6 separate regions of the Homo sapiens genome follow, and all the other regions are linked to region 6. The links come from fine-mapping of genetic effects on gene expression. A gene starts in region 6. Each other region holds a variant in brackets. All regions are shown on one strand. Distances are between the middles of the regions. Region 1 holds the start of LINC03098 (long intergenic non-protein coding RNA 3098). Region 2 has its middle 15 kb from the start of SLC25A5-AS1. Region 3 overlaps SLC25A43 (solute carrier family 25 member 43). Region 4 overlaps SLC25A43 (solute carrier family 25 member 43). Region 5 has its middle 7.3 kb from the start of SLC25A5-AS1. Region 6 holds the start of SLC25A43 (solute carrier family 25 member 43).

Evidence for each region. PIP is the estimated chance that this variant, and not a neighbour inherited with it, causes the effect.
Region 1: its variant is the best candidate, but not a certain one, in a credible set for the expression of SLC25A43 in fibroblasts (GTEx, PIP 0.61).
Region 2: its variant is the best candidate, but not a certain one, in a credible set for the expression of SLC25A43 in esophagus muscle (GTEx, PIP 0.73).
Region 3: its variant is the best candidate, but not a certain one, in a credible set for the expression of SLC25A43 in tibial artery (GTEx, PIP 0.51).
Region 4: its variant is the best candidate, but not a certain one, in a credible set for the expression of SLC25A43 in whole blood (TOPMed, PIP 0.72).
Region 5: its variant is the best candidate, but not a certain one, in a credible set for the expression of SLC25A43 in blood mononuclear cells (TOPMed, PIP 0.56).

The regions. Positions count from the first base shown.
Region 1 is chrX:119,291,265-119,295,353 of GRCh38, reverse strand. It overlaps LINC03098 (long intergenic non-protein coding RNA 3098), which reads right to left and starts at 3,825. Exons shown (of 4, transcript NR_110396.1): 1 at 3,733-3,825. The variant G/T (reference allele first, on the strand shown) is at 1,993.
Region 2 is chrX:119,481,710-119,485,798 of GRCh38, reverse strand. No RefSeq gene overlaps it. Among named protein-coding and RNA genes, the nearest start is that of SLC25A5-AS1, 15 kb to the right of the region's middle. RefSeq lists enhancers at 3,072-3,121, 3,172-3,271. The variant T/C (reference allele first, on the strand shown) is at 2,448.
Region 3 is chrX:119,451,215-119,455,303 of GRCh38, reverse strand. It overlaps SLC25A43 (solute carrier family 25 member 43), which reads right to left. Exons shown (of 5, transcript NM_145305.3): 4 at 3,161-3,295; 5 at 826-2,439. The coding sequence ends at 2,239. Among named protein-coding and RNA genes, the nearest start is that of SLC25A5, 15 kb to the left of the region's middle. The variant T/C (reference allele first, on the strand shown) is at 1,946.
Region 4 is chrX:119,445,165-119,449,253 of GRCh38, reverse strand. The region is part of intron 3 of SLC25A43 (solute carrier family 25 member 43); the gene reads right to left. Among named protein-coding and RNA genes, the nearest start is that of SLC25A5, 21 kb to the left of the region's middle. The variant G/C (reference allele first, on the strand shown) is at 2,149.
Region 5 is chrX:119,474,367-119,478,453 of GRCh38, reverse strand. No RefSeq gene overlaps it. Among named protein-coding and RNA genes, the nearest start is that of SLC25A5-AS1, 7.3 kb to the right of the region's middle. The variant G/C (reference allele first, on the strand shown) is at 2,548.
Region 6 is chrX:119,397,205-119,401,293 of GRCh38, reverse strand. SLC25A43 (solute carrier family 25 member 43) reads right to left here and starts at 1,958. Exons shown (of 5, transcript NM_145305.3): 1 at 1,616-1,958. The coding sequence starts at 1,890. RefSeq lists a silencer at 1,435-2,094.

The DNA of each region.
Region 1 (4,089 bases), 110 kb after region 6:
TAACTAAAAGAGAATAATTGGGTTGTTTGTAAGACAAAGAAAGGATAAATGCTTGAGGGGATGGATGCTCCTTTTACCCTGGTGTGATTATTACACATGGCATGCCTGTATCACAATATCTCATGTACCCCATAAATATATAAACCTATTATATAACCACAAAATTAAAAATAAATTTTTTAAAAAAAGATATTAGCAAATAGAATTCAGAATGTATAAAAGGTATTATGCATAATGACAAAATAGTGCTTATTTCAGAGATGCAAAGCTAGTTCAATATTCAAAAATCAATCAATGTAATCTGTGATACTAAAAGGCCACTGAAGAAAACTTACATGATCACATAAATTGATGCAGAAAAGTGACTTGAGAAAATACAACACCCATTCAGAATAAAAAAATACTCAGTTTTCTAGGAATAGAGGGAAATTCCTCAACTTGATAAAAGGCAAGTACAAAAACCTATAGCTGACGACAAGAATGCCCTCTCTTGCCACTCTTTTATTTTATTTTATTTTTAAGACAAGGTCTCACTATGTTGCCCAGGATGGTCTCCAACTTCTGGCCTCAAGTGATCCTCATGCCTTGGCCTCCCAAAGTGTTGGGATTACAGGCATGAGCCACCACGCCCAGCTGCCACTCTTATTCAACAAAGTGCTGGAAGTTTTAGTCAGTGCAATAAGATGAGAAAAGGAAATAAAAGGCATACAAAATAGAAAGGCATAAATAAAACTGCCTCTATTTGCAAATGACATAACTGTCTACACAGTAAATCTCAGGAATCATTTAAAAACCTAGAACTAATAAATGCATTCAGCAAGGCTGTCAGATACTAGATCAACAATGAATGTGTGGACACTGAAATGAAAAATAGAATACTTTTACAATAGCTAAAAAATTTAATACTTCAGTGCAAATCTAACAAAACATGTAAAGCACTTGTATGCTGAAGACTACAAAATTCTGATGAAGGAAATCAAAGATCTATATAAATGGAGAGACATACCATGGATGGAAAACTGAACACAGTAAAGACATCAATTCTCCCCAAATTGATATACAAGTTTAATGCAATAATTATTAGAATCATAGCAAGAACTTTTGTAGACAAAGACATGTTTATTTTAAAATTTATATGTAAAGCAACAGGCCCTAGAATAGTTAAAACGTAGTGAAAATAAGTTAATAAGATTAAAGTATATGGAATCACTTGTGTTATGACTTAATATGATGCTACGGTAGTCAAGATAGTGTGGTATTGGTGGAGGGATAAACACAGATTGGAGGGACAGAAGAGAGAATCCAGGACAGACTCTTAAAAACAAATATGGCAAACTGATTTTTGACAAATGCACAAAAGAATGTCAATGGAGGAAATATAGCTTTTTCAACAAATGATGCTAAAACAATTGGATATCCACAGGCAAAAAACAAACAAACAAACAAACAAACACCTTGACCTATATATCACATCTTACACAAAAATCAACTCAAAATGGATTATGAACTTAAGTGTAAAACACAAAACTATAAAGGTTTTAGAAAAAAAAACACAGGAGAAAATCTTTGGGATCTAGGGCTATGTGAATAGTTCTCATACCTGACACCAAAGGCATTAGCCATAAAAGGAAAAATTTATAAATTGGACTTAATCAAAATGAAAAACTTCTGCTTTGCGAAAGAGGATGAAAAGGCAAGCTATAAGCTTGGAGAAAATATTTGCAAACCACATATCCAACAAAGGACCTGTATACAGAATATTTAAAGAACTCCCAAAAACTTAACAGTTAAAAAATAAAACCAATCAATTCAATCAGAAAATGAACAAAAGTCATGAAGAGTCATTCCATGAATGAGGAGATATAGATAGCAAATAAGCATAGTTAATGATGTTCATTGTAAGGGAAATGCAAATTAAAACCACATTGAAGTATCACTATGTATTTGTCAGAATAAATAATATTAGAGACAACATCAAATGCTAGTAAGGGT[G/T]TGGAGAGATGGAATCACTTATGTACATTGTTGTTTGGAATGTAAAATGATACAATCATACTGGAAGGGAGTATGGCAGTTTCTTTCTTTCCTCTTTCTTTCTTTCTTTCTTTCTTTCTTTCTTTCTTTCTTTCTTTCTTTCTTTCCTTCTTTCTTTCTTTTGGGGTCTCCCTCTGTCACCCAGGCTGGAGTGAAGTGGTGTGATCATGGCTCACTGCGGCCTCAAACTCCTGGGCTCAATCGATTCTCCCACCTCAGCCTCCCAAGTAGCTGGGACCACAGGCATGGGCCACCATGCTGGCTAATGTTTTGTATTTTTTGTAGAGATGGGGTTTTGCCATATTGCCCAGGCTGGTTTCGAACTCCTGTCCTCAAGTGATCCACCTGCCTCGGTCTCCCGAAGTGCTGGGATTACAGGCATGAGCCACTGCACCTGACTATGGTTTCTTAAAAAACTAAACATGCAACTACTATATGACCCAGCAATTTCACAGAATAGTTCCTCTTCCCAGAGTTGTTTTACAAGGCATAATTGACTGAAAAATACTGCCCATAAGACATTAAGTCACATGAGTGGACTATACATGGACATTGAGAATTACTAGGCCTGAAAATTATGGGTCCCCTATCTTCTTGGGCTTCTCTATTTCCATGGTGGCCAAGCTCTGTCTCTCCCCTTGGCTGGTCTTTGAAATTCAGGAGCTGATAGCTCCTCTGCTGCCATCTGTCTAGCTTGCCTGGCATTGTGCTGAAGAAGTTGACTTTGGCTCCCTCTGAAACCCCAAGTGGGTTATGTAGCTTTCTCCTCCAGATCTAACCAGCTACCTAATGGAAGAGTTACCAAACTCTTGAGGCAGGCAGGAAACATCCCTTTTGCATTCCTGCCAGTCAGACTGGCTAGGATAGGAGTGGGGGTCAGGATGCTGGATGGGACCCTCAGCTGGGATCCAACCTGCTCTACTTCCACGGGCCATGTAGTGATTTGTGGCTTCTCTCACTCCTGCATAGGCCTCCTGGCTTGCTTTCAAGATAAGAGTCAAAGGTTGTGAGCCTTCGCCAATTTTTCCTGGGTAAGGAAAACTCATTTCCTTTCCTTGGCATTTGTCCCCTTTCCTCTCTTTCTCACTCCAAGTGTCTCTTTTACAGTCTCTTCTGGGAACTTCCTCTCTCCAATCTGTGACACCTTCTATAATTCCTGCCCTTCTATTTTCAGTTTATGTTGATGCCTGTAGGGTCATATGTGAAAGCCTTTTAGAAACTCCAGCTAAAATTATGCAATTGCAAAGCATCATTGCTGCTTGCCTGTTAGATGGGCAAGGTCCTGTGCTATATGCTAACTGAATCTGCCCACAAGTAGCGTACATCTAATGGGAAGATAACTAATATTAATACAGAGAAACATATGCCAAGAGCCACAAGAACAATAAAGAAAATATGCTATGAATTCGGATCTGTTTCACTCCCATCTTCCAGGAATCAACAGGCCAGACAGGAGGCTTTGCCAGAAAGCCTTTTCAAACCTGGCATTCTAAGTTTCCATCATGTCTGTATTAATTTCCTATTGCCACTCTAATAAACTAACACAAATTTAGTGGCTTAAAATAATGCAGACTTACTATCTGACAGTTCTAGAGGCCAAAAGTTTTACAATCAAGCTGTCAGTATGTATTAGTCCATTCTCACATTGCTATAAAAAAACTACCTGAGACTTTATAAAGAAAAGAGATTTAATTGACTCACAGTTCTGCAGGCTATACAGGAGCCATGGCTGGGTAGGCCTCAGGAAACTTATAATCATGGCAAAATATGAAGGGGAAGCAAGCACACCTTCACATGGTGACAGGAGAGAGAGTGAAGGGGGAGGTGCTACACAGTTTTAAACAACCAGATCTCGTGAGAACTCACTACCATGAGAACAGCAGGGGGGGAATCCACCCCCATGATCCAATCACCTCCCACCAGGTCCCTCCCCCAACACTGGGGATTACAATTCAACATGAGATTTGAGTAGAGACACAGAGCCAAACCATATCACAGCAGGACTGTGTTCCTTCTAGAAGCCCTAAGGGAGAATTTGTTTTCTTGCCATTTCCAGAG
Region 2 (4,089 bases), 85 kb before region 6:
AGATTACAGGCACCCACCACCATACCCAGCTAATTTTTGCATTTTTAGTAGAGACAGGGTTTCACCGTGTCGGCCAGGCTGGTCTCAAATTCCTATGCTCAAGTGATCCTCGCATCTTGGCCTCCCAAAATGCTGGGATTATAGTGGTAAGCCACCACACCTGGCCCACCCTTCCGCCCTTCCTTTCCTTTCCTTCCTTCCTTCCTTCCTTCCTCTCTTCCTTCCTTCTTTCCTCCCTCCCTCCCTTCCTTCCACAAACATGTATTGAGAGCCTACTATGTGTCAGGGACTGTGCTAGGCACTGAGGCTAGAGCAGAGGCAGAGGGCCCTGCCCTCCTGCACTTGGCATTCTCGATCATTCATACCTTCCTGCTTTTGTGCCCTTAGTGCATGCCCTTCCCTCTGTCTGGATTGTCTTCCTCATGCCTCTTCACCAAAGATCAACGCCATCATCAGGGCCCAACTGAAATCTCACCTCCACCATGCAGCCCTGACCACCCCGCCCAGTGATTGCTCTCTAAGAGAATCCATTAAATACTTATCATCTGGACAGCGCATTTGGCACATGTCAGATGTTCTGGCACTCTTAACTCTCATGTTTATATATGGATCCTATCACTCAGGAAACATTTCCATTCTCCTCAAGAAACATTAACTGGGTGCCTCCTATATATTTTAGCAGTGGTAAACATAATGAAACTTTGTGGTGCCTCTTTCAGTTACAACAGCTTTCATAACTATTTTATCATTTGGTTTTCACAAAACACCATCACTTCCATTTTATGCTTCAATTTAAAAAAATATAATGTATACCCCAGCTAGAATAGCTATTGTCAAAAAGACAAAAAAAAAAAAATGCTAGGGAGGATGCAGAGAAAAGGGGACTTGTACATTGTTGATGAGAATGTAAATCAGTACAGCCATTATGGAAAATGGTATGAAGGTTTCTTAAAAAAAAAAAAACAAACTACAAATAGGACTACCATATGATCCAGCAATTCCACTCACTACTGGATATATACCCCCAAAAAGGAAATCAGTGTATTGAGATACCTGCCTCCCCATGTTTATTGCAGCACTATTTACAATAGCTAAGATATGGAATCTATCTTAGTGTCCATCAATGGATGAATGGATAGAGAAAATGTCACACAGACACAGCAGAATATTATTCAGCCATAAAAAAGAATGAGATCTTGTCATTCATGACAAGATGGATGAGCCTGGAGGACATTATGTTAAGTGAAATAAGTCAGGCATGTTCTGCATGTTCTCACTTATATGTGGGAGCTAAAAAAAACTCCTGAGCTCATAGAAGTAGAGAGTAGAATTATGATTATTAGAGGCTGGGAAAGGTAGAGGGGAGGGGAGGATAGGGAGAGGTTGGTTACAAAGTTACAGCTAAATCGAAGGAATAAAGCTGGGTGCAGTGGCTCATGCCTGTAATCCCAGCACTTTGGGAGGCTGAGGTAGGTGGATCACTTGAGGTCAGGAGTTCGAGGCCATCCTGGCCAACCTGGTGAAACCCCATCTCTACTAAAAATACAAAATTAGCTGGGTGTGGTGGTGAGCGCCTGTAATCCCAGCTACTCATGAGGCTGAGGCTGGAGAATCGCTTGAACCCAGAAGGTGGAGGTTGCAGTGAGCCGAGATGGCACCACTGCACTCCAGCCTGGGCAACAGAGCGAGATTCTATCTAAAAAAAAAAAAAAAAAATGTGTACTGTTAAAAATGTAATTTAAATTACTTACTTCATGGATAAGTATGTTCTCATGAACATTAAAACATTATAAATCTGGCTATCATTGTAGATCTGACCACCGCTACCCTACTCCAGACTCCCTCAGAGATACAGAAGAGGAAACTGAGACTCAAAGAAGTGACATGGTGTGCCCAAGGCCACACAGCTAGTGCCTGTGGGGGATTTTCTGATTCTAAATCTCTCTCTGTTTTTTTTCTTTTTTGAGACGGAGTCTCACTCAGTCGCCCAGGCTGGAGTGCAGTGGTGCAATCTTGGCTTACTGCAACCTCCACTTCCCGGGGTTCAAGCAATTCTCCTGCCTCAGCCTCCCAAGTAGCTGAGACTACAGGCATGCGCCACCACGCCCTGCTAATTTTTTTTTTTTTTTTTTTTTTTTTAGTAGAGACAGGATTTTACCTTGTTGGTCAAGCTGGTCTCGAACTCCAGACCTCAAATAATCCACCCACCTTGGCCTCCCAAAGTGTTGGGATTACCGGCGTGAGCCACCGCGCCCAGCCTGACTTTAAATCTCTTGCTATTCTAATTTTTCTACACTGCCTCCCATCACCACAAGAATCCTTTCTATTCCTCACTGTGTCCCTGGTGCCCAGCACAGGGCTCTGCACCAAAGCTGGGGCTCAGCAAATATTTCCATATCAATGGATTCCCTGGCAGAGGGTTTCCTTTGCACGAAGGCATTGCCTTC[T/C]GAGGTGGGCTACACCGACCTCATTTGGTCAGTGAAGGCTCGAAGTGGCAACTGAGGCCATGCAGGCATCCTCCCAGGTGTCCCTTCTGCCACCCCAGGGCTTGGCGACATCAGGGATCCTGAGAGTCTCCTTTGGGAGCCAATACAGTGAGACCCAGTAGAGGTACACCAGGTGTTTGCTGGGCACACGCTATGTGGCTGCCGGTATGCCAATGGCCGTGTGTGACTCGGGGGAGAAATGCAAAGTATGATATTGTTGAGCCAAGATTTGTCCCATACGTAGGACACAGTGACCAGCCAGCACATATCCAAGTTCTAAATTATGCAGTGCTGATGATGCTTTGGGGGTTCAGGGGAGGAAGAGCTTGGCTGGAGCGGCCAGGGTAGACTTCTTGGGGGCGGTGGGTTTAGCTGAGCTTGGTGGAAAGCGGTCTGCGTGGAGGACACAGCTCTTCCAGCGGAGTCGGCCGCGGTGCCCAGGCCGAGGCGAGAAGCAGCGCGCCCTCTGCAGGCAGGTGCGAGAGGCGGCCGGAGACCCGCCTGGGCACGTGGACTGGAAAAGGAAGGAGTCGGCCATCGGCTGCTGCCGCTGCGGCTGCGCTGCGACTTTTTCAGCCTGTCTGTCTCAATCCAGCCTTGCACTTCGGCGACTTTCAACCGCCATTAGGCCTGCAAAAGCCGCGTTTTTTCCCTCAGGGCGTGCCCTGCCCTCCTCTCTCCTAGTTGTCTGCAGCTCCCCGCCTGGCGGGCCGGGCCATTTCCTTCTGCTGCTACTCGGCATAGTCCTAGCGGACTGTTTTAGCCACCGCGCTGAGAGCGCTCTTTACAAAGTTTCCCAGATTACAAAACCGGCGCCTAAAGGGAAGGGGCCGACTCTGAGAGAGCCCGTAGTTATTTAACAAACACTTAAGCGCATATTATATGCTAGGCTTTGTGCCAAGCGCCTCGCAAATATTAATTTATTTCATCCTCACTACAGTGCCAGGCAAGTAGTGTTCTTGACCCCATTTTCCGGCTGAGCAAGGTGAGGCAGTGAGACTTAGAATCTTGCTCACCATTTCACAGCTGGAAAGGGGCGGAACCATGCTCTTAACCACTGCACCAAGCGCCTCTCCAGGGGCTCCTCACATGGGTAGGTCCCCAAGCAGGCCGATGGTCCCTAAAGAGCTTGAACCCCTCCCTTCCTCTGGGCCTCCGTGGTTATTTTCCAGGCACCGCAGCATTAAGTGCTACTTTCTGACTCTCTCTAAGTTGGGGGGGGGTTCCCTTTGTTTTCAGGGTTTTCATCTGCAGGTGTTACACGTGGTTTGCCAGGTGCCTCGGTTTCCTCATCTGGGAAATGGTAATCTTAGCACCTGCATCATAAGGCCACTGAAAGGATTAAATGAGTATCCACAATTAAAAGAGTGCCTGGCCCATAGTCAAAGCTCAAGAAATGACAATGGATGTTACTACTGAGCAAGTCCGCTGCTGCACTCCTGGAGGCCTCCCACTCACAAGTGAGAGAGAACAAACTCTGCCTGCTTCCTGAGCACGTCAAAAAGGGCCACATTCACTCAAGGGTTCTCATGGGCTTTTAGTGGCTGAAATAGTCTTAGAAGCTGGGAACATTAGGCCCAGGTCTGGGAGCAGGTCTGGCCTA
Region 3 (4,089 bases), 54 kb before region 6:
AGTTCTTCTGAAATTAGAAAAATCAGGCGTATTATTTTCCCCACTTAATTTAATGAAGAAAAAATCAAAACTGCAGCTCAGAAAACATTTCTGTGCATGACAACTGCAAGAGTTTAGCTATCTATTTAATAATACTTGTGGAAGGGCAGGGTGTGGTGGCTCACACCTGTAATCCCAGCACTTTGGGAGGCAGAGGTGGGCAGATCACCTAAGGTCAGGAGTTCGAGACCAGCCTGGCCAACATGGTGAAACCCTGTCTCTACTACAAATACAAAAATTAGCCAGGCATGGTGGCAGGCGCCTGTAATCCCAGCTACTCGGGAGGCTGAAGCTGGAGAACTGCTCGAACCCGGGAGGAGGTTCCAGTGAGCTGAGATCACGCCATTGGACTCCAGCCTGGGTGACAATTTTTTTTTTCAAATTAAAAAAAAAATTACTTGTGGAAGAATACACAAGATATTATCATGAAATAATGTGAGGTTAGGATTTTATAGTTAAAAAAGTAAAAAATATTTTTGCAGCTTTCAGAACTGTTTGAAAAGTTGTCTGTTTCAAGGAAAATAAAGAGTAATAAACATGAACTATTCACTTTGGGTAAAGAATCTGCCACCCTCCAAACTCTAACAGATTGAGCTACAGATGAGATTTCCATGTGTGTGTGTGTTAACTGCCATTCTCCATAAAACAGAATGCCGCAGCAGTTGGAAAAGTGAATTATTTTGGTATACTTAAATAGGATAAGGCTTTGAGAGTTTACAGATTTGGCCAATATGTATTTAACCATAGTTTTATAACTCAGACTAGCAATAAATGACCAACACATCATTTTTTCTTTGGAAAATAAATTTAATCGGAAAAAATACTTGCAACATACCGAAAATCTCTCTCTATGTATGAGTGTATGTGTGTGTATAAATTAACAATTTTATGTTAGATATTAATGCATTTTTAAATGCATAGATAGGTGCTATTTGACAAGTATAGTTATATAAACTTTACATAGAATCTCTAAAGTGGAACAATCCTGAGATTTGATTTTTAGAAAGTTTGATACAGATGATTAGGTTAAAGTGTTTATAGTCAGTTACATTTTTTTGAGTATGTGTGTCAAATGTTCCATTTGATCCTTTCTAGGCAACTGGGACATCTTTGAGAATAACTTGACTAAATAACTTATTTTCAGAGTAGGCTTGCAAAGCAAGTTAAAAAGGCAGAGAATTTAGGCCACTGAACTGTACATGACTTCAATCAGAAGGTCTTTGGGGGGATAATTAAGCAGTCATGGTATAAACTGTCTTTCTGAAACACAAGATTTTAAGCCTGGGATGCTTCAAATTTCAAAAAAGAAGGATGATTCTACTACAATGGTGATAGCTTTTAAATGTTCGCTATTTTCATTTAGATTCTGATAAGGCATAATTTACACTGTGGTGTGTGCACTCAGATGTCAGCAAAAATTTGAGTTCAAAAAAGATTGTACTGGGGCAGGGTGCAGCGGCTCACACCTCTAATCCTAGCGCTTTGGGAGGCCAAGGCAGGAGGATTGCATGAGCCCAGGAGTTCAAGACCAGCCTGGGCAACATAGCAAGACCTCCCCAAAAAATTAGCTAGGTGTGGTGGTGTGCACCTATGGTCCCAACTCTCTGGAGGCTGAAGCAGGAGGATGTCTTGAGCCCAGTAGTTAAAGGCTGCAGTGAGCTATGATTGTGTCATTGTACTCCAGTCTGGGTGACAGAGCAAGACCCTGTCTCTAAAAACAAAACAAAACAACAGATTGTATTGGAAAGTCTCAGGTCAAACTGAGTGAAACTAGGCTGACGTTGGTTTGTGCAAGCTTTGCATTGACTACAAGTGACCCAGTGGCTGACCTCACAACGTGGTATCCACTCAGCCACTTCAATTACCTGTTGCTTTGAGATGTCATGGCAATGCCCTTTCTTTGGTG[T/C]CATGTTTCTATTCAGAGCGTAAATTGTACATTTTATCACTGCTAGACTCTGGTTATAAAATCTCGTGGAATGCCATCATGATACACTCTTGTTGGGAAACCTTCTCATAGTGCAGGTGTTCACAGGGACATCAGTTTGGAGATCTGAGGTGGTGCATGGCCAAACCATCTCATTTCCCAGAGCAGCAGATAGCAGTAGCTTCTCATCCCTCCTCAGGTGCACAGTTATGAGGCTACATTTATCTGTGATTGCAACATGCTGTCAGTCAGTGCACTTCTAGTTCCATTCCATTTTATAGAGTTGGTTTTTTAGGCTTCGGTTTTCTCGTTTTGAAGAACTTCTTTAATTCTCGTAATTCCTGGGGCTGCAAACTCTGATCGACTCCTGGGGTCAATTTATAGCTCAGTGGAGACAGAATGTAACCATTTTGATAAAGACAGATTCTCTTGCAGAACTCAAAGGTGCTAAACATAATTCCAAAATATGGAACTATCTGTTAAAACCAAAAATGAAAATCAAGTTAAGTTCTTAAAAAGAAAACATCAATGTGTCTGCAGTCAACTTGGATCAGGGTAAATTATCTTGTAAAGTGAGATAATGGCGGTGGCAATACAAATGGTAACTCTTTTTGGAATCAGGAAAGATGGCAAAAGGAAAGCTGGCTCAGTGTGGGTTGGGAGAGGAATGACAGTGATTGAAGGGCATGACCTGCCTGGGAGGCACTAGATCTGGGTCATATGCACGCAGACTATCTGATACTACCTGTCACTATATGCTGGCCTTGACTGGAATCATTTACATGCCAGCTAGTGCAAGGTTAGTCCAGAGTGCTTAATGTTTTTTGTTTTTGTTTTTTTTTTTTTTTGTCATGGAGTTCTTTGGGAATATGATGCACATATGCATATACACATACATTTTTGCATAGAATTTTAGGATGAGGGGTTAGGTTCCCATTAGGGGCCCATGAACCTCCACATTAAGTATCTCTGCACTAAATGCTCAGCTCCTCTGGAATGGGGTATAAGATACTCCACCACTGCACAGGTTCCCCTCTCTACGGGGCTGACAGACAGTGTGCATTCATGGGCCTTGTGCTACCCATTAGTGCTAGAGGGGGTTTTCCAAGCAAACTGTAGTAGGGGTTGGGGGTGACAAAGGAAGAGGGTAGAATTGGAAGAGGCAGGGGAGCAGCGGAGGCTGGTGGCTCTTCTCACCTTCAGTAAATTGGCTGTCAATCCATTCCAGAGCCCCAGGACCCCCTGGGCCTTCACTATCTGCCGGAAGCAGTCCACTGCTCCTGAGAAATGGACATCTACTCCTCCACTGTGTGGGAGGTAGGGGCTCTGAGCCTGACAGGAAACAGAAGCTGGGATGAGGTGATTGAAACATTAGGAAATAAATGTCCTAGTGGAAGGAGCCAGGGTCTCAAGTCTACATTCTGGATGCTGGGTTCCTGGCCAAGATGATGGCAAAGAATGGCTGCTGTGGGGTTCTTCTTGTTCTGTGGGCTTAGAACAGATATTAACGTGCAATACAATCATGATACCCTGTCCATATATTTGTCGTTTATTTTGCCTGGAAGGAAGCAGACATTTGGGACAGATTCAATTTCATACTTACATTCCCTCCCAACCTGTGCCTTCTGGACATGATAAACATAATCCCATGCCCTTAGCCTTTTTAAAGTATTCTGTTTCCTTGTCTTTACTGGTCCTTCCCCTGTGAAGCTCCCAAGCGGAGGCTGTTCATTTCTCCACCTCACAGATGTGACAGGGTAGGGAGCATTGTGATGGTGGCATTCTTCTCGCTCTCTGTTGCTGTTCCCAAACCCTTCCTCCTTCACTCTCACGACAGAAGCACTTAGCTGGGGCTGATGTCACTGAACCATACTCCTTGGCCTGCTATTATCTACTAATCTGGCCACTCTTCCACGTTCATTGAAGACTGTGATACCTGGTGGCTCACCCTCTCCTAGCCTCGCCGTCATCTTAGGTAACTTTGGCATCTATAAAGACGACCCAGCCCATGACCAGTTTCTGGCCTTCGGCTTCAGTGATCCTCACCTTTATACCATTTTGGCCACCCCGTGGACATCATCACCACCTTCAGAGCCATCCTGACGGAACCCTATTATTACCAAAAT
Region 4 (4,089 bases), 48 kb before region 6:
TTAGTAGAGATGGGGTTTCCCTGTGTTGGGCAGGCTGGTCTTGAACTCCTGACCTCAGGTGATCCACCTGCCTCGGCCTCCCAAAGTGCTGAGATTACAGGTATGAGCCACCGTGCCCGGCCTCATTCTTTATACTACAGCCAGAACGCATTTCTAAAATTCCAATTCAGACCACTGACTACTTTACTGACATTTTACCGCCTATAGGATAAAATCTAAGCTCCTTAGAATGACATGTAAGGCCCTTCATGACAACTTTTCCAACATGAAAAGCATCACTCACCCCAATCATACTGACTGCACTCCTTAGCTCTTTTTTATACTCCCATTATCTCCTCTAAAGACTATTCATTTATTTGCATATTTATTGATACTTACTATATGCCCGACACTCAGGATACATTAGTGAACCAAACAGACAAAAGTCCCTGTTCCTATAAAGCTGAAAGTCTAATTGCAGGGGAAGACAAGACAAAGAAAGAAAATAAATAAGTAAATTACACCAAATACTAAGAGGAGGTGAGTGCTCTGGATAAAATAAAAGCAGGGGGAACATAAGGAGTGTCTGGAGGATGCTGAAGTTTTTATTAGGGTAATCAGAGAAGACCTCACCAAGAAGATGGCTTTTTGGAGATCTGAAGGAAGTGAGGAAGCAAGTTGTACAGATATCTTCAAAGGCCCTGGGACAGGAGCATGTCCGGGGTGTTACAGAGGCAATGAGGAGGCCAATGTGGTGGTAATGGAATGAACAAAATAGAGAGTAATGGGATATGACTTCACAAAAGTAAATGGTGGCTAGGTTGTATAAGGCTGGTAGGGCACACAGTAAGAATTTTGGCTTTTACTGAGAAGACTGGTCACTGGGGGGGGTTATGAATAGAAGAATGGCATGACCTAATTTATATTTTCACATGATCACTGGCTGCTGTGTTGAAAAAGACTCAAGAATGGAGGGAAAAGTAGGATGGAGACTGGTTAGGAGATTACTAGAGTAATTTAGGCAAGAGATGACGGTAGCTTGGACTGGGATGCTAGTGGTGGAGTGGTGAGCAGTGATCAGACTCGATATATTCTGAAGGTAGAGTCAACAGGATTGGCTGATGGACTGGATGAGGGTGTGAGAGGAGAGTCAAGGATGGCTCTAAAGTTTCTGGCCTAAGTGACGGGATAGACAGAAGTGCCATGAACTGAGATGGAGGACGCTATGGGAGAAGCAGGTTGGCTTTTTGTTTTTGTTTTTTGAGGGTGGGTGAAAACATCAGGAGTTCAACTGCGCAATGCTTGTTAGCCATTCAAATGGAGATGGAGAGTTGGCTACATGAGTCTGGAGTTCAGGGGAGAGGTCAGGGCCGGAGACATAATTAGGGAGTGATCAGTACATGGGTGGTATTTAAAGCCAGGAGACCAGATGAGATCACTTAGGGCTTGAGCCTGGGGATACTTCCACATTAGACCCCACAAAGAAGACTGAGAAGGAGCAGTTGGTGAAGAAGGAAAAGGAAAGTGTGGTGTCCAGGAAGCCAAGTGAAGGTGGTATGTCAAGGAGGAGTGGTGAGCTGCTGAGGGCCCAGTAAGATGAAGACTGAGAAGTGACCATTGGATCTAAACACATGGAGGTCACTGGTTATCATAAAAAGAGAAGTTTTGGCTGGGTGCAGTGGCTCACATGTGCAATCCCAGCACTTTGGGAGGCCATAGGGGGAGGATTGCTTGAGCCCAGGAGTTCAAGACCAGCCTGGGCAACACAGTGGGACCCCTATCTCTGCAAAAAATATAAAAATTAGCTGGGTGTGGTGGTGCACACCTGTAGTCCCAGTTACTTGGGGGGGCTGAGGTGGGAGGGTTGCTTGAGCCCATGAGGTTGAGGCTGCAGTGAACCATGATTGTGCCACTGTACTCCAGCCTGGGCGATAGAGTGAGTCCATGTCTCAAAAAATAAAAGAGAAGTTTATTGGATGGTGGAGCAAAAGTCTGACTGGAATGGACTCAAGAGAGAATCGGGCTGGGCATGGTGGCTCACGCCTGTAATTCTAGCACTTTGGGAGGCCAAGGCAAGTGGATCACCTGAGGTCAGGAGTTAGAGACCAGCCTGGCCAACATGGCAAAACCCTGTCTCTGCTAAAAATACAAAAATGAGCTGGGCATGGT[G/C]GTGGGTGCCTGTAATCCCAGCTACTCAGGAAGCTGAGTCATGAGAATCACTTGAACCCGGGAGGTGGAGGTTGCAGTGAGCTGAGATCACGCCACTGCACTCCAGCCTGGGCAACAGAGTGAGACTCTGTCTCAAAAAAAAAGAGAATGGGAAGAGAAAGATTGGAGATGGTGAATATAGACAACTCTTTCAAAGAGGCCTCTTTCACAATTGTACTGTAATCATGTCCAATTTACATGTCTGTTTTTCCTAGTGTTCTGTGAACTCTGAGGACTGGGTCTTTTTAATTTCTGTATCTCTAGTGCCTTAAGCAGCAGCTGACACATGACTGGTGCTCAATGAATGGCTTGCTGAATGAGTACATAAAATGCCCAGTATAAGAGTGGGCTGGAATTTTTAAAGCATTTTCACATAATTTTATGCATGAGTTATAAAAACGGTAGGTCAAGACTTATACAATGTAATGTAGAATCTTTGCAGAAAACAAATATCAAAATTCATTTCATTTCTCTCTTCACAAGACATTGTAGATGGTTCTATTTTACTAAGATGTAATGGCATAGTACAAAATATTACACATGTAGTCCATATTACTATTGCCACTACTGATGCATAGCTGCTGACATTTATTGACTGCTTATGTGTCTGTTAAAGTTGAGGAAACTGAGGCTCAGGGACAGGTTAAGTGATTTGACCAAGGTCATACAGCAGGTAATGAACACATTTTATTCTGTTTTATATTCCAGTTAGTTGTTTCCTGTCTCTTTCCCTCAGGATACTATGAGACCTGTGATGGCTAGGACCACATTTTACTTAGCTTTTCTCTCTTCCACCCTCCTTAAAAATCTGTAGAAGAATGAATTACAATCAGTGAAGCAGTGTGAAAACTCGATTTTACTGATTCAAACCAGGCTTTCTGGACTTTCTTTTTTTTTTTTTTTTTTTTTTTTTTTGAGATGGAGTCCCACTCTGTCACTCAGGCTAGAGAGCAGTGGTTGATCTCGGCTCACTGCAACCTCTGCCTCCCAGATTCAAGCAATTCTCCTGCCTCAGCCTCCCGAGTAGCTGGGATTGCAGGTGCATGCCACCACACCCAGCTAATTTTTGTACTTTTAGTAGAGGTGGGGTTTCACCATGTTGGCCAGGCTGGCCTCAAACTCTTGACCTCAGGTGATCCTCCTGCCTCGGCCTCCCAAAGTGCTGGGATTATGGGCATGAGCCACCTCTTTGTTGCCCCTGACAATGAAAGCTGGCTCTTTCTTGCTCTCCTTCTGATTACTAGATCTCCAAGGACTTGATTACTTTAGACTCTGATAACGCAGATCCCTAAACCAGAGACCCCAATCTGAAATGGACCCTAAGATCTTCCCTTCCAATTATTCGTTTCACAAACAAAAACCTATGACCTGGAGAAGCAGAGCAACTTAACCAAAGCCCCCAGCTGGTGCATAGCAGAGGCAGACCTAGAGGCCAGATGCTGTGCCTACTGGGCCACTGCAATCTGTACTCCAGGATCCTGCCTCCTGGTGACTCTGCGACCTTGGCATCTAGGCTCCAAGGCTTTACACTACAACTTATGCTGCCCCTAACAGCCACCTAACTCATGTCCTTGCAGGACACCCCACCCCACTACTGTTGCTGCACAACCCTGGCAATGCCAGTCGTCATCTTGTCCAAGTTAGACTTTAGCTTTTCTCATGACCCCCAACTATAAGGACATTCAATACAGCATATAGTAAAAGGCAACTAATTCCAACTAGTGGGTATGTATAGGGGGGAAGTCGGCCTAAATGAGTGAAATCTAAATTATGAAATTTTGGAAAGACACTCCATTTTATTATACATGACTGGAACTAGATTAATGAAGGGCAACCTAGTAGAGACACTTTTCAGGCCTTACTTTCATGCATGGTTGAGTGATCTGTGGAAGCCTAGGTAGA
Region 5 (4,087 bases), 77 kb before region 6:
AAAGAACCACAGCCCACAGTAGATTTGAGGAATTATATTGTAGCTTAAAAAGGAAAGTTGATTTCCAGGTTTCCTGGTAGACAAACTGAGCCACTAACTAGTGACGGGATGTGATATGACCCAAGACAAAGAAACATGGAGCCGAAGTGGGATTACAATTTCAGTGGTCAAACTCCTAGCTTTCTACCCTAATTGGCAAACAGCACGCTTTTACCCAGAAGCCCAAGCGTCCTTACCCCCTGATCTTCACTTCTGGGATAAAGCCATTATGAAGCTCAATTTTTGTAATAAATGGACTCCTGAACCCTGGACTTAGTTGTGAAAGTGAAAGGAGATCCTTTGCTTCTAAAGGTCTCAGTAAATTTTCTCCTCCCTGCAGCTTCTTTCCCTAGGGAGTGAAGTCATAGGGTTGGGTAATCAGGCTGGGACCTCATGGGTTCCTTGAAATACTACGAGAGCAAAGGAAGCTGTGAGAAGAATCCTGGTGACCACACAGTGGCCCCTGGGTCAGGTGAGCAGTGCAGTCTGGTTGTGAGGCAGGACGGATTTATCTTTGACCTTTGGTCTCTTTCATAATCAGTGTTGTAAAATAAGTGCTCTGAGTTAGAGCTCAGGATTATCACCATAAGCACATGTTTCTATTCATTCAGTCCATTCCAAAAATGTCCTTTTCTTTCTTTACAACCTTCTCTCTCTCTCTCTGTGTGTGTGTGTGTGATCCACTTTCTATAGTATATATAGCATTTTCTTGAGACTGTTTTAGAAAATCTGCAGGAAAAGGATAAATCCATTAAACCATTCTCCCATGAATGAAGTGAAAATAATTTAAAGCATTTCAATAAAACAATAACAGTCGGGCCAGATGCAGTGGCTCCTGCCTGTAATCCCAGCACTTTGGGAGGCTGAGGCGGTTGGATCACTTGAGGCCAGGAGTTCGAGACCAACCTGGCCAACATGGTGAAACCCCATCTCTACTAAAAATACAAAAATTAGCCAGGTGTGGTGGCTTGCACCTCTTGTCCCAGCTACTCGGGAGACTAAGGCAGGAGAATCGCTTGAACCTGGGGGGTGGAGGTTGCAGTGAGCCAAGTTCGCACCACTGAACTCCAGCCTGGGTGACAGAGCAAGACTCTATCTCAAAAACAAAAACAAAGCAATAACAGTCATAATAAGAGCAAAATTGTGTAAAGCAGGTGCCCAGCATTGTTCTAAGCACTTTACATATATTAACTCCTTTAATCTTCACACTATTCCTATGAGGTAGGTACTAAAGTTATCCCCATATTCCACATGGGGAAACTAAGGCACAAAACAGTTAAGTAAAAGTTGAATTGTTGTCAAGTAAGAAAGTTTGGTATTTGAAAATGAGACCTCTAGCCTCAAAGCTTCTCATGAGTGAGTCCTGAGCGGTGTGCTCCGAGGAAGGTCAGGTGGTGAGGAAGCCCCAGACCTCTCCCTGATGTACAGGGCTGCCTCCAAATTCCTTCATCCACTCCAGTTCCACGGGCAGGAATGGATCTGAGTTTTGTGGAAGTGTCAGCTTATATGATTTGGCTCCCTCTTTTTAAAAACACAAAATATGTCTTTTGAAAATGTTGCCAAACCATATGACCAAATGAATATATGGTTAGGGCTTGGGAGGGGCCCATGCAAGGGGTGGCTCCAAAGGGGAAGCACCCCTAGCTCCACAGTACATCTGCCTTTGCCTCTGCCCATAAGATATCTCTGCTTCTTGCCAAACTGGGTATTGGAGTTCATTTAGACAGAAGAGTTTTCCTTTTCATTCCCAAACACGAGGCCCTCGGAAGTTACCAGTCAACAGCTATTTAACTGATACTTTATTCTGGTTATGTCCTTGCAACCATAACCATCTCTATTCTGGGACTGAAAACATTAGAGACAGTGTAACATGTCATGTGATCAGATTCGGCATGTTCTCTAAAATCTCAACAGTGCTAAATTGCCTCCCCATGTTACGAAAGTTGCCCAAGGAAATGAAATCCCAGGATGGATGCTCGCCATAAAAATAACCCCCTCGTTTCTCTGTCCCCTTCCCTGATAGTCACGGAAAAGCCAAGGATTAATAGACTCCTTTAATTTAACTCAGTTTTGTCTCTGATGAGGGTCTAGTGAAAGCAACTGCCCAATCTGTCGCTTGAATACTGTTTATATTTGTTGCCGGGATACCAAAGGCTCTCTTAAGCCTTTGGCTAAGAAGAGCACCATGCATCTGACCTTGTTCACCTGCACATAAAGCAAATAATGGCTGAAATGATAGGAAAGCTCCTCCAAACATTTGGAGTGGAACACAAGGCATTTTTGTGTCCGAAATTGCAGCGCCTAATATTTGTTGTTCAAATAAATCTCAACCTGCATACGGAAGTGCACATTACACATAATAAGATGAGGCTTTGAGAAGACAGATGTTAATTATTTTGAGGTAAATCAGAGCACCTCTGACCCAAACACCGAGCTGTAATTTGTTGCTCAGCTTCTTGGTCCTGAAATTAATGTAAATCTTTACATTCGTAATTTTACTTGCCAATG[G/C]CAAACCACCCACACAGTCTGTAAATGACTGCTCTGAGTCAGAGACTATTCATTTACGATTGTGTTAGATATTTTAAAATGTTCTCTGAAAGGATTAAATCACCTAATCCTGGTCCTTTCACTGGTTCTGCTTTCTGCAAAAATGATGGAGCTGGAGGACGTCTAAACTAGAAGGGACTTTAGAGTTTGTCTCTTCCCCAAATTTCTCCATTCAAGGATAAGAAACTAAGACCCTGATGTTAGAAGTGACTTGTCTCCAGGTCACTCAGCAACCAAAACTAACCCCCCAACCCCCGCAAAAAAAAAAAAAAAAAAAAAAAAAAAAAAAAATCCCAGGTTAGGATTTTAATAAATGGCCACACTTAGAAATCCTTGCTCAGAGTCCGGAAGCTACCCTTTCCCTGCCCTCCTGCCTCCGACAGCTTCTGTTAGTCCTGGTACTCCACAGTATGACTCGGTTCTAAAAGAATCATGCCATTTTGAATCCAGGTGGTCAGAATACGATTCCGATAAAACAAATCAGCAGCCGTTACAGCAATATGCATTAATTTTGGGGGAATGGATAGCCAAGAAATTGCTAATAACGGTGACTTTTGAGGAGGGGGCTAGTGATGAGAAACGCAGGACAGGAAGATGTTTACTTTTCGTTTTACATATTTTCTTTACTATTTGGCTTTTATTACCATGTACAGATGTTAACTATTAAAAACCTCAAAAGCAAATTAGAAATACTACGTTCACAAACTTCAAAGGAGAAATAGAATTTACCCCAGTAACACGGATGCTTGAAAATCTATGATACAGTACAGCAGTACTTTAAAAATTTTTTCTCCCAAAGTATCTGTAATGATAGAGGAGACTGAATTGGAGTCTGGGGGCAGTGCCAGAAATGGCCCTTGTATACCAAAACTCTCTTTGCAGTTTATGTTTTTAAAATGCCTTCAAATTAATAGACTCTCTAGCATCTCTGCATCTCTTTTGATACAAAAAAATGACGGTTTAAATGACTTACCATTCACGAAAACTGCCGCTCTGGGAAGACACCCCTCGTTTCTTTCTCCGGCGGTCCGGAGCGCCCGTAGCGCGCTGCTTCCAGTCACTGAGTGCAGAGGGCCCTTGGAATAGGAAGCACGGCTGTGCACAAGCTGACCTGTGTTCTGGCTCTCTCACCTGGAATCAGGCTTCACGGATCCTGTTATGTATTGAATAGTAACAAAACAACGGCATAAATTAGGGTGTTGCTAAGATTGTGTACCATCAACGTTCGCATGAGCGTAATGGACATAATGAATTCTATAGCACTATCCTGCACAGCTTGGAGAGATTAAAACCACTTTGTCTTTAAATTAAATTTCAAAAATCATTGAACAAGAATAGAAAGAACAACAACAAAAAAAACCCCCACCTCATCTATGTCAGCTACCCAATTGCAGGAGGCACCACTTCTTGCTTTCTGATCATTAATGCCTGGTCCTAGGTTTATTTTAATAGCTGCCAGCTCAGTGAGTCCACATCTATTGTAATAACCATAAAGGGGGCT
Region 6 (4,089 bases):
GACTTAATGTAGCCTGACTAAATTAGTGTCAAATGGATGCAGGGAGGCAGCATGATGTAACAGAAAGACTATGAGATTTGGAGTCAGAAGGCCAGGTAGTGGAGCTCAGCTCGGTCACTGACAAGAGGTGTCATCACTCTGAGCCCAATTCTGCATCTGTAAAACAGGCACAATGCTTCCTGTCCTATGGACCTTACAGGGCAGGAGGCAGGAGCTTAAAAAATCTAATGTGCATATACTAGGTGCTTAGCAGAAGAGCCACAATACTTAAACCAGCCTTTGAAGTTCTGCCCCCCACCCCTCTGGACATATTTTATCCCATCCAAAGGAAGATTTCCACACTACTTTGTAGAGAAGAGGGTGAAGTGGGGGAGAAACTGAGTCATTAAGACTCAGAGGAGAACTGTTTACAGACTGCAGGCCAGATGTTGATGAGGGCAAGCAGAGGTGGGGAGGAAAAAGGGCCTTAACTAAATGTCATGGTCCCACCCATGAGTCCCTCTGCAGAGGAAGAGAAGGGAACTCTATTTCCAGGCAGAGGCAAAATGAGTACTGGCCTAGAGGCCTAGGTAATAAGGATGATTCCGTTCGGCTTGTCGGCTGCCAGGTGAGCCTTCCACCTCTGGCCTCCCAGGTGAGTGACAGTGTCAAGGCAAAATCCTTTGACTATTAGCCGCCAAGACTAAACTATGCGGTCAAGACCGACTCTCCCAAATGTGGGCTGTTTGTCTAATTCAGAGCCAAGGCGATATCAAAGATGCCACTGTGCCCACTGAATGAGGAACACAGGGACCGTCCCCCCAATACAGAAACATCTCTGCTTCCTGAAATGCCATCACTACCAATTCATTCTTTCAGGCTTGGTTTCCAGTTCAAATGCAGGTACCTCTGAGCTCGGTGGAAGCTTTAAGGCTGCATTTACACCTTTAGATCTTTTCCTAAGGAGCAGCTGTTGATGTGGGAGAAGGTGGAAAAGGCCCAAATAAATGAGGCCAGTGGGGTGAAGCGGTAGGCTGAGGGGGCCGTTCTCAGCTTGGGGAGGGGAAGCTGCAGCCTCTGTCGGAGCCTGAAGTCAAGCTTCATTTAAGTTGGGGAGATGTGTGGGCAAAAATCTGCGGCCTTTTCGTATCGATGGATCGGGTCCTTTCCCCACACCAAGCACTTTCTTCTCGGGGCTTGGGTCACACAGACAAAAACACCTTTAAAAGGGTCTCTCTCTTCCTAAGCCAGCCTAAGCAAAAGTTTCCAAATTGGAGGACGGTGGAAATGGTTAGGACTCATCTCTCTGGAGAGCTTTTCATTCCTTTCCTCCAAATCCTTTGCTGCATTCCACCTCCTCGCCCGGTCCAATCCGGAAAGCCTCTCGGACCAGGGCTGCGGACCACAAAACTGCATCTTGCAGGGCGGTAACCCCAAGAGAACGTGAAAAGCATTGGGGCTGCACTCTGGGGGCCATAGAGGTGGCCCACCGCCCCGAGGGGTCCCCAGGTGATCGACAAGGGGGCCGTCCCTACTCCAGGGCCCCGAGTCCAGGCAGCAGGGCGGCGTCGGGCCGCGGCTCCCCCACCCCACCCCCGTCCGGTCTCCCGGTTCCCCGGCCCCGCCCGGCTCTTACTTGCGGTAGGCGGCGAGCTGCACGGCGCTGCAGGGGAAGAGGCGCAGGCACGCCACCGCGTTCCCCTTCCACAGGGCCCGGAGCCCCTCTGCCCGCCACACCCGGTGCCCTGTGGCCCACGGTCCCCGGGCGTGGCCTCGCACGACGCCAACCTGGGCCAGCACGGTGGCGAGCTCCAGGGGCGCGGTGAGGCTGAGGCTGAGCGTCCCCGCCAGCCCAGCGCACAGCAGCCTTTGGCCGCCTGTCAGTCGGCCGTCCCGCCTCCACGTAGCCATCGAGCCCCGACCCGGGCCCGGAAGACCGCGTGGCTCGGGCCTGGGGCTCTCCGGCCACGGGCGGAGGTGGCGGGCCCCAGGCCCCGCCCGGCATGGGGCGGGCCCGCGTGAGGGACGGGAAGCCCCGTCTACGCCCTAGCCTGGCCCGAGGCTGGTCGGGGGTGGGGCGCGAGGGCCTGGAGGGTCCGGGGTCCGAGGCCGCGGATATCATGGGCATAGTCTCCCCAGTTGGCAAGGCTCGAGTAGCGACTTTCAGTTGCGAAACAGTTACTGTTCTCTCAAGGCCCAGCCTGCTAGACATCTTGCTTCCTAAATGTTCAGTGCGCCCCCGCCGCCCCTCCCTGCCTCTCCTCTGGTTTGCCCCTTTTCTCCCTTTCACGTGCCACTTCTCTGTCTTCCTCCCCTGGCGCTTCCCTCCTCCTCCTCTTGCCTCCAACCCATTTTTTTTTCCTGCCTAACCAAAAAGCCTTGATGGTTTCCCAGTGCAGAAGGTAAAAAATTCTAACAACCACAGTTGCTATCTCTCAGGCACTTGTCAAGTACTGGGCTTTACAGACGTTCTCATGTAATCCTCAAAACGGCCCTAAGTACGTATGTCCTCATTGACAGAGGCTGTGTGGGTGTGGGGACTTGAATCTGGACTCTTGAACCTGTGTAAGATTCTTGGCTCTGCAGCTTACCAGCTGTGGGACCTTGGGGAAGTCACTCAACCTCTCTGTGTGTCAGTTGCTTTATAAAACAGAGATTATAATTTTTTCCTCCTAGGGGTTGTTGTAAGGATTAATGAACAATGACTGGTATGGGTAAGCAGTTTATATGTGTTAGTTCTGATTAGGTATTCATTTACAGGAGAGGAAACCAAGACACAGAGAGGACTTGCTCAGGCTCACACAGCTACCTACAAAGCAGAGACCGGTTTGAAATCTAGGGCGGTTTATGTCAGTTTCCACTAACGGCTACACTATATGTCTACTAGGACTGCAGAGTTAACTCCAGTAGGGACATTTTCAGTGGTTCTGTAAGCTAAGAGAACAATAGAGGCAAAGAATGGCTAAGAGAGGCTTGGCCAGAATCCGAGGATTCTTTAATCAGTTCAAAAATTTCAGAATTTCAGAATTTCTTTCTGTCTCTTTTTTTTCTAAAAAAGCCATGTCACTAATAATTACAAGGAAAGGAACTGTCAGCAGTCTGTTGGTGTGAGCAAGATGTTCCGGGTACATAGTTGTTTTTAGGCTTGTATAGTTATTTACATTTACTAACACACAATGCTATAGGAACGTTTTCTAAAAGGCATTGCAGGGTTTCTCCTTTTTTATTTTTCACTGTCAATCTCACTTGAGTATGACATTACAAGGTTTTGACTGTGAGAACTTGTTCTAGTTGCAGAAGCCATACTCTGCTCTCAACAATTGGGGAATGCTTATTTTCATGTTTTGTGAATTCTTCTGTCTTGTTGTAAGCTAATTTGATGGCTGGGGGAAGCTTGAGAAAGATGTATGACTCTGAAGACCGGAGGACCCCGACTTTAAAAGGGCTTGAATTGGAATTTGGGGATTACAATAAGGAAACCTTCGGGTACTGGTACTTCCTAAAGCCCTTTGTTGGATAACGGGACAAGATTCTAAAGCTCTTTCAGGAAGTTCGTGGGTCTGGAACATTTCATGTGATAACCCCATTGTATGGAGATTGGGTCAGCCAAGTTATGTTTTTTTTTTTTTTGAGACAGAGTCTCGCTCTGTCGCCCAGGGTGAAGTGCAGTGGCATGGTCTTGGCTCACTGTAACCTCTGCCTCCTAGGTTCAAGCGATTCTCCTGCCTCAGCCTCCTAAGTAGCTGGGACTACAGGCATGTGCCACCATACCCAACTAATTTTTTTGTATTTTCAGTAGAGATGGGGTTCGCCATGTTGGCCAGGCTGGTCTCGAATTCCTGACCTCAGATGATCCACCTGCCTCGGCCTCCCAAAGTGCCGAAATTACAGGCATGAGCCACCGCGCCTGGCCTATTTTAACCTTGAAAGTAAAATGTATGGCCGGGCGCGGTGGCTCACGCCTATAATCCCAGCACTTTGGGAGGCTGAGGCGGGCGGATCACGAGGTCAGGAGATCGAGACCATCCTGGCTAACACGGTGAAACCCCGTCTCTACTGAAAATACAAAAAATTAGCCGGGCGAGGTGGCGGGCGCCTGTAGTCCCACCT